Linked DNA regions of Homo sapiens: all the other regions are linked to region 2. Evidence: fine-mapped expression QTL. A gene starts in region 2. Each other region holds a variant in brackets. All regions are shown on one strand. Distances are from middle to middle.

Region 1 (2,761 bases), 310 kb after region 2:
AAAAGCTTCCACTGCCAGGCCACACACTAAAAGTCACAGTGATCATAGGGAGAATGGGATTAAGAGGCTTCTGCAATCCTATGGGCCTTTGTAACCAGAGCACTAATGAAAGCAGCAATCGCAGTAGAAATGTGGGCACGGTTCCATGTCTGCTGCATTTGTACCTGGCTTTAGCTGATTCACGCCTTGGCTGCCTGTAGTGGGTAGAATGGTGTGTCCCCCAAAGGACAGCGACCCACAGCCTGTGAATGTGACCATATTTGGGAAAAGGATCTTTGCAGTTGTGATTAAGTTTAGGATCTCAAGATGAGATCATTCTAGATTTAGGGTGGGTGGGCCCTAAATCCAATGACAGATGTCCTCCTAAGAGAAAGGAGGGGAAGATTTGAGACCCAGACATAGAGGAGAGAAGGCCATGTGAAAACAGGCAGAGATTGCAGCGATGCTGCCATAAGCCAAGGAACACCTGGAGCCACTAGAAGCTGGAAGAGGTGAAAAAGAATTCTCCCCTAAAGCCTCCAGAGGGTGTATGGCCCTGCTGACACCCTAATTTGGGGCATCTGCCCTGCAGAACCATCAGAGAGTAAATTTCTGTTGTTTTAAAAGCCACGCAAGTTTGTGTTAAATTTTTTAGGGCAACCTCATGGCTCATGCTCCCTTCTCTAGGATACAGGTTCTAGAAAGTGTCTGCTTCTAATAGAGACCATTCTCCTGAACATTAAAAATTGGATCCAGGCCAGATACAGTGGCTCACATCTGCAATCTCTGCACTTTGGTAGGCTAAGGCAGGAGGATCACCTGAGCCCAGAAATTCGAGACCAGCCTAGGCAACATAGTGAGACCCCCTCCTCCATCTCTACAAAAAAAAAAAAAAAAATGTTTTAAGTAGCCAGGCATGGCAGTGCATGCTTGCAGTCCTAGCTACTTGGCCAGCTGAGGCAGGAGGATCGCCTGAGCCCAGGAGTTCGAGGTTACAGTGTTCAAGATTTTGCTGAGCTACGATTGCACTGCACTCCAGCCTGGCAACAAAGTGAGACCCTGTCTCTTTAAAAAAAAAACAGAAACGTAATACTAAACCGCAGCATTCTTCATCAGTGCATTGTCTTCACAGCTTCCTTGTTGGTGTGCACAGCTTCAGCAAATAGTTCAACACAGTAGAAAGCAGGATGGTTCTGGAAACCACTACATGTGGAAGGCACTTCTGTAGACGTTTGGCTTTTTTCTTTTTTTTTCTTTTCTTTCTTC[TA/T]AAAAAAAGGGTGGGGGGATACATGTGCAGAACGTGCAGGTTTGTTACATAGGTATACGTGTGCCATAGTGGTTTGCTGCACCTATTGATCCATCCTCTAAGTTCCCTCCCCTCACCCCCCACTCCCCAACAGGCCCTGGTGTGTGTGTTCCCCTCTCTGTGTCCATGTGTTCTCAATGTTCACCTCCCACTTATGAGTGAGAACATGCAGTGTTTGGTTTTCTGTTGCTGTGTTAGTTTGATGAGGATGATGGCTTCCAGCTGCATCCATGTCCCTGCAAAGGACATGATCTCATTCCTTTTTATGGCTGCATAGTATTCCATGGTGTATATGTACTGCATTTTCTTTATCCAGTCTATCACTGATGGGCATTTGGGTTGGTTCTATGTCTTTGCTATTGTAAATAGTGCTGCAGTAAACATGTGTGCATGTGTCTTTATAGTAGAATGATTTATATTCCTTTGAGTATAATGGGATTGCTGGGTCTAACGGTATGTCTGGTTCTAGATCCTTGAGGAATCGCCACACTGTCTTCCACAATGGTTGAACTAATTTACACTCCCACCAACAGTGTAAAAGTGTTCCTGTTTCTCCACAGCCTCGCCAGCATCTATCATTTCCTGACTTTTTAATAATCGCCATTCTGACTGGCATGAGATGGTATCTCACTGCGGTTTTGATTTGCATTTCTCTGATGATCAGTGATGATGAGCTTTTTTTCATATCTTTGTTGGCCGCATTGTGTGTCTTCTTTTGAGAAGTGTCTGTTCATATCCTTTGCCTACTTTCTGATGGGGTTGTTTATCTTTTATTTTTATAAATATGTTTAAGTTCCTTGTAAATTCTGAATATTAGACCTTTGTCAGATGAGTAGATTGCAAAAATTTTCTCTTATTCTATAGATTGCCTGTTCACTCTGATGCTAGTTTCTTTTGCTGTGCAGAAGCTCTTTAGTTTAATTAGATCCCATTTGTCAATTTTGGCTTTTGTTGCAATTGTTTTTGGTGTTTTTGTCATGAAGTCTTTCCCCATGCCTATGTCCTGAATGGTATTGCCTAGGTTTTCTTCTAGGGTTTTCATGGTTTTGGGTTTTACATTAAGGTCTTCATATATTGCTTAAGCTTTCTAGAAAGTGCTTGCCCCTGATCCCTTCAAAACATTAACTTTCTGGAGTACTGTTCTGTTGTATATCTTGACCTGGGTGTGATTACCTAAATGTATACGTATGTCAAGATTCACTGAGCTGAACATCTGAAGATTTTGCACTGTGTGTGGTTTATATCTCAGTACAAAACTTTTAAAACTTAACATGCTGGGAGAGTCACGTTATGCTCCAGCCTGACTTCTGCCTTTGTATCAACATCAATCCCTTGTTTACTCATCAAAGTAGTCACCATTGTAGCAAAACAGATGCTATTAACTCACTTCACTCACACAATGCCATGTGAGGGCTATGCTGTTTTGATTCCCATTTTACAGATAGGGAAATGGAGGCACACAGAAGGTGAGGGGGC
Region 2 (2,761 bases):
TCACTAACTGCCACCTGAGAGCCCTGGTCCCCGCTGCCGCCACAGCGGGTCTGTTTGGCAGTCAGGGCGCGAGCTGGTGAGCGGATGCGTGGGCGGAGGGACTGGCGCTACCCACCCAGCAGCCACCCACTGCAGGTGAGTGCCCCTCCCAGGGCGAGGGGAGGAGAAGGGCCTGGCCGCTAGCCCTAGGGTCAGGCTCTGGTGAAAATGGGAAGGGGGATGGGGGCTGAATAGGCTACTTTGTGATGAGACTCCCGTCCCTGTGACACTTCAGGGTCCTCTGGGGATCTGTCATTCCTCTTGCAAGCTCTCTTGTTCTCTGGTCCCTCTCCTCCTCTCCTTATTTCCTCCTCTCCTCTCCTCTCCTCTCATCTCCTCTCCTCTCCTCTCCCTTCATCGTGTCTCTACCTCTATCTCCGCCGGTGCCTCTCTCGGTATCTGTCTCTCAGTCTCTGCCTTCTCTGTGTCTCGTACGGTCTCCTGTCTTTCTTGGTCTCTCGGTCCTGAGCGCTCTCTCGCCCTGTCACTGATGACCGCTGGCTTTTGGCTCTCCGTGCTCGCTCTTCGTGTGTCCCGGCCACGCACGGCTCACCAGCTCGTTTTCCCCAGACGCGGAAAGTCTACCTTCGGCGTGCGGGTTTCCCAAGCGCGCCGGGCCCCGCCTGCGGCCCTCCGGCGGGCTCTGTCTGCTGGAGGCGCTCCGCTAACCCTGCTGTCGCCTCTTTCCACCAGCGCACCGCCTAGGCAAGCCAGCTGACGCCGGGGGCACAGACCACCCTCCACTGAGTGCGGAGCAGCCAAGGTGAGTGCACCGATGCCCCTTCCGCCCCTCCGATCCCTCCCCAGCTGCCCTGGTTCGAGCCGACTGGAGAAATGAGGCTGCAACAGCGAAGCCAGCCTGCGGCCGCTTTCTCCTCTAAAGACTGGTGGGAGGGCCCGGGAGGCCCCTCGGGCGGCCGCAGCTCTTTGGCTGCCCGCTGCCCCATCCCGGAGTGGAAACCCTGAGTTTCCAGGCTTCGGGCTGGCGGGGTCGCGGGCAGGGCAGCGCGGCTTCCCCTTTAAGGCCGGAGCCGCTCGTCGCCGTGAGTGTGAGGGTGTGTGAGTGTGCGGCGTGCGTGTCTCCTCCTCCCCGAGTGACACAGCAGTGAGAAATGCCTATCAGTAACTTAAACCCCCGAAACTCCACCTTCCGGGCGCGCGGCGCGGAGCCGGGCGGTGGGAATGGAGCGAGCAGATTGAGGCCGCCACTGCAGCGCCGCCAGCATGAACTTGGCCGCGAGCTGAAGCGGCCGGCGGCGGGCGGGCGCGGGGGCACCGGCCGCTAGCCAGGGGGTGATCTGCAACAGGGCTGGGTTCCTTGGCGGCCGCCTGAGTCCAGGCTGCCCGCGCCGGCGGCCGCCCGCCCCTCGGACACTGCCCCCGCCGCCGCCGGAGCTCTGCAGCACGGTAAGGCTGAGGGCGGGTGCAGGAAGTCTGACTGTTCTGGGGGTTCCGGGGTACACTTGTAGCCCCCAGTTATGGTCCCCATCGCTGAGGATCGGGGTCCCAGGGGTGCTTCGAGTCGGTAGACCCTAAAGTTTGCTCTGAGCACACGGCCCACCTGGCGCTGCGGGCGGCCACCCCCTTCTCGAACCAGCCCGGCTGGGCTGGGCGCAGCTCGAAACGCCGGAGACCACGGCCTTTGGCTCGGCGCCCGTCGGGCGTCTGAAATCCGGCGGGGACAGCCACGTACCGGGGAGGAAAGGTAGAAGGGCGCAAGCTCCTCGGGCTACGCTGGGCTACTGGGAGGCTCCCACTCTGTCCCAGCACCCCCGGGTCGCTTGCAGCCTGGGTGTCACCGGCGACGGTGCCTTCACATGCCAGCTGCCTGAGCCCAGGCCAGTAGGCAGTGGGCGCTGGATGAAGGATTTCCCCACCCCAACGCTGTTTGCCGCCTCTGAGCGAGAGTGTGGAGTGTGCGCGCCGAATCCGCTGCCCTGCACTCCCTCCCCTGCCAACTCCTGGGAAGCGCAGCCCGGAGCTGAGCTGGTGTTCAGGGCAGCCCGGACTGGGTTCCTGCGGAGCAGCCCCGGCGCCCCTGCGTCAGAGTCCGCGCTTCAGGTTCCCCAGCATCCGCGCGACGACAGAGCTGGGCGCCCGGCGCCGGCTAGCGCGGGCGGGAAGCCCCCCGGAGCGCCGCCAAATACTTTTCTCGGCCAGTTGGCTTGGCCAGGCTCCGTCCCAATGCAGTGTGTCCGAAGCCTCCTGGAAAGCTGGAGATGTCGTCTGATTCTGATCCGTGATTAAATTCGGACTGAGCAGACACTAATAGGATTAGCCTGCCAGAAAGCTCGGCCCTGAAGCCATCGGAACCTGTGCAAACACGCGCCTCGGGCTGGAGCATTCACTCCCGCCCCGCCGCGCTTCTGCAGCTGGGTGCGGCTGACCTGGGCACCCGGAGTGTGGGTGTGTGTGAGCGGGCGGGAGCACAGCGTGGCTGGGGGACGTGGGGAGAAGGGGCTGCTTTTGCTGGGGTGGCTTGTCGTTGTTGTTTGGCACCACGGTGCCCCCCGGGGGCGCGGTCCCCACGGTGAACGTGCTGCTCACGGGTAGGCAAACCCAGGCCGGCTCCGGGACATTGTCTGCAAGGGCGAGCGAGCCGAGCTTACTAGAGGCGGCTGCGCTGGAACAAAGGCGCAAAGTCTCCCTGAGACCAAGCAATTTTGAAAGAGTTGGCTAGGGAGAGGGCCTGGGTCTCCCGGGGTAGACCCCCGCGGGAATT
Region 3 (2,761 bases), 130 kb after region 2:
TTGCAGTGAGCCGAGATCATACCACTGCACTCCAGCCTGGGAGACAGAGCAAGACTCCGTCTCAAAAACAAACAAACAAAAAGAAGTAAAAAATTAAAACCTGCTGTCAACACTGATCAGGTCAAGAAATAGAATATTGACAACCCCCAAGTAGATCCTCATGTGACCTTCCTGATCCAAGATAATTATTCTGCTTTTCTACATAGCTTCATCACTTATTAATAGACTTAAACTTGTAATTGCTTCATTTTCAAAACCTTAGTGGCGGGGCCGGGTACGGTGGCTTACACCTGTAATCCCAGCACTTTGGGAGGCTGAGGCAGGCAGATCGCTTGAGCCCAGAGTTTGAGACCAACCTGGGCAACATGGGGAAACCCTGTCTCTACTAAAAACGCAAAAATTAGCTGGGAGTGGTGGTACAAGCCTGTAGTCCCAGCTACCTGGGAAGCTGAGGTGGCAGGATCACCTGAGCCCGCCAGGGAGGTGGAGGTTTCAGTGAGCCGTGATTGCACTACTGCACTCCAGCCTGGGTGACCAGAGTGATACCCTGCCTCAATACAAAACAAACAAACAAACAAACAAACAAAAACCTTGGCCGGGTGTGGTGGCTCACACCTGTAATCCCAGCACTTTGGGAGACCAAGGTAGGCAGATCACCTGAGGTCAGGAGTTCAAGACCAGCCTGGCCAACATGGCGAAATCCTGTCTCTACTAAAAATACAAAAATTAGCCAGGCATGGTGGCATGTGCCTGTAATCCTAGCTACTCAGGAGGCTGAGGCAGGAGAATCCCTTCAACCTAGGAGGTGAAGGTTGTGGTGAGCTGAGATTGTGCCACTACACTCCAGCCTGGGCGACAGAGTGAGATTCCGTCTCAAAACAAACAAACAAACAAACAAACAAACAACAGCAACAGCAAAAAACCTTAGTGGAAGACACAATCTAAGCATTTAAGGGAAGAGTCCCAGGCCATTAGTAGATGAAGGCTTTCAGAAGAAGAGAGGTTGACCTGTCCTGGTCATTATCTGCCTTCAGCTTCCCGGGAATGTGTAGAGCCCACCACCATCAGGACACTAGCAGAGTTGTGGACATGGTATTGGATATGCAGAAGAAATATGGCCAAAGAGATTGGACTGCCCTCTGTGTTTTGCTTTCAAGCTCACCACAGCCTGCCTCCAGTACCTCCAGTTCCCAGGTGTAGGGCAACACAGAACATCCCTGTGGGGTGAAGTGAGTGGCCTCCACTGATC[C/T]GGCCAGCAGGACCAGGAAAGCAGAGCAGGAAATTCACCAGACAAAGGGTCAAGCCAGACCTCTTCCAGGGTGGGGGACAGGCAGATGCCTGGGGACACAGAGTCAGAGAGGGGATTCAGAGATCTGCCTGCTCCTTAACCAGCTTCCAGCCCAACCCCATTACGCTGACCATGTCCCCCCATTCCACTTTACCTCCCAGATCTGGGAACATCTAGAGCTCCTCCTCCTGAGGCTTGGGAAGATTCTGCCGTATAGACCACGATCCTTTCCAGTTTTCTCCTCTGCTGTCTTGTGATTCAGCTTCCTTGGTGCTGTGTAGTCAGTTAATCCTGGTCTATCTGCATTTTAGTTTCATAAATTATGATGCTGTTATCTCCTCTCCTATTCTCTCTATCCTGGTGGGATTTTGTCTTTAAAAACAAAACAAAACACAAACTCTTACTGTAGTTTTAATGAGACTCTGGGAGGAAGAGAATTTAGATGCTTGCATTAAACTGCTGTCTAATTCCAGAAGTCTCCAAAGGAAATCCTGCCACTCCCTTCTTCGGTTGCCCGAACATGACGGTTAGTTGGATGGCTCCCTTGGAAGCCCAAGGTGCCATCAGGGAGATACTGAGAGAATTTGAGGCTGGGAAGGCAGGTGGGGGTTGGGGTGAGGGTTATGTTTTGAATATTGCTTCATATTGAAGCATTTGTAGTATTTGCGGTTAAGAGCCTGGATTTTCATGTAAGTCAACTCCAGGTTCAGCTTCCAGCTCTGCCAGTTACATATGGTGTGACTTTGAGCAAGTTACTTTGCTTTTCTGAACCTTATTTTCCCCACCTGTTAAGTGGGGATCATAATGGTACCCATCTTTCAGGCTTGCCATGGGTATTGAATGTTTCACTTAGTAAACATTTACAGCGTTTCACTCAGTGCCTGGCACATTGTATGTGTTCAATACATGGTAGCTATTGTCATCATCATTATCGTCATCATCATGAGAAAATAGAAACCTTCCAGAAACTGTCAGGGCAACGATTGCCACAGGCCGTTGTTGGCTACTAAAACTCTAGACTCTGGAGAGCCTTGATGCCCTTCCTCTTTTACCCCGTCCCTGATGCTCCCCCAAGTAGCATGATGCCCAGTGGCCCACCAACCTCATTACCCAGCATTGCTGACAACAGGCACAGCCTTGGTCACTGTGAAAATGCCCCACAGCCTCAACCTCAGAAGTGGGAAGTATACTGCAGATTCACTCTATGCCAAGCACTATGGGATATCCACAGGAATGTGCCACAGTGAGGTAACTGCCCAGGGGATAGTAATTCCTTCATTTCTTTATACATTATGGATTCTACCATTTTGTTATTGGGTTATTTTTCCCCTTGTCAAAGTAGCAATTTATCAGTTGAACTTAATTCTCTAATTAAATTTCAAATCTGAGAATTTACATGATGAAGTGAATTTGATTTTGGACCCAGTCAATTTCAGTCAGCCCTAAACATATTTTGAAATGTTAAAGTTAAAT

Direction of the effects. Alleles are on the strand shown, and positions count from the first base shown. SD is a standard deviation of normalised expression in the study named. Not every link is listed here.
For the expression in left ventricle of the gene that starts at base 1,233 in region 2, allele T in region 3 goes with a lower level than allele C (small effect, 0.13 SD a copy in GTEx).

The links. PIP is the estimated chance that this variant, and not a neighbour inherited with it, causes the effect. A credible set is the group of variants that fine-mapping cannot tell apart.
Region 1: its variant is the best candidate, but not a certain one, in a credible set for the expression of MAMLD1 in whole blood (TOPMed, PIP 0.51).
Region 3: its variant is the best candidate, but not a certain one, in a credible set for the expression of MAMLD1 in left ventricle (GTEx, PIP 0.60).

Annotation. Positions count from the first base shown.
Region 1 is chrX:150,667,671-150,670,431 of GRCh38, forward strand. The region is part of intron 14 of MTM1 (myotubularin 1); the gene reads left to right. Among named protein-coding and RNA genes, the nearest start is that of MTMR1, 24 kb to the right of the region's middle. The variant TA/T (reference allele first, on the strand shown) is at 1,246.
Region 2 is chrX:150,362,085-150,364,845 of GRCh38, forward strand. It overlaps MAMLD1 (mastermind like domain containing 1), which reads left to right and starts at 1,233. Exons shown (of 8, transcript NM_005491.5): 1 at 1,233-1,446.
Region 3 is chrX:150,494,331-150,497,091 of GRCh38, forward strand. All of the region lies in intron 5 of MAMLD1 (mastermind like domain containing 1), which reads left to right. LOC124905223 (a long non-coding RNA gene) reads left to right here. Exons shown (of 2, transcript XR_007068346.1): 2 at 1-2,761. Among named protein-coding and RNA genes, the nearest start is that of MTM1, 73 kb to the right of the region's middle. The variant C/T (reference allele first, on the strand shown) is at 1,250.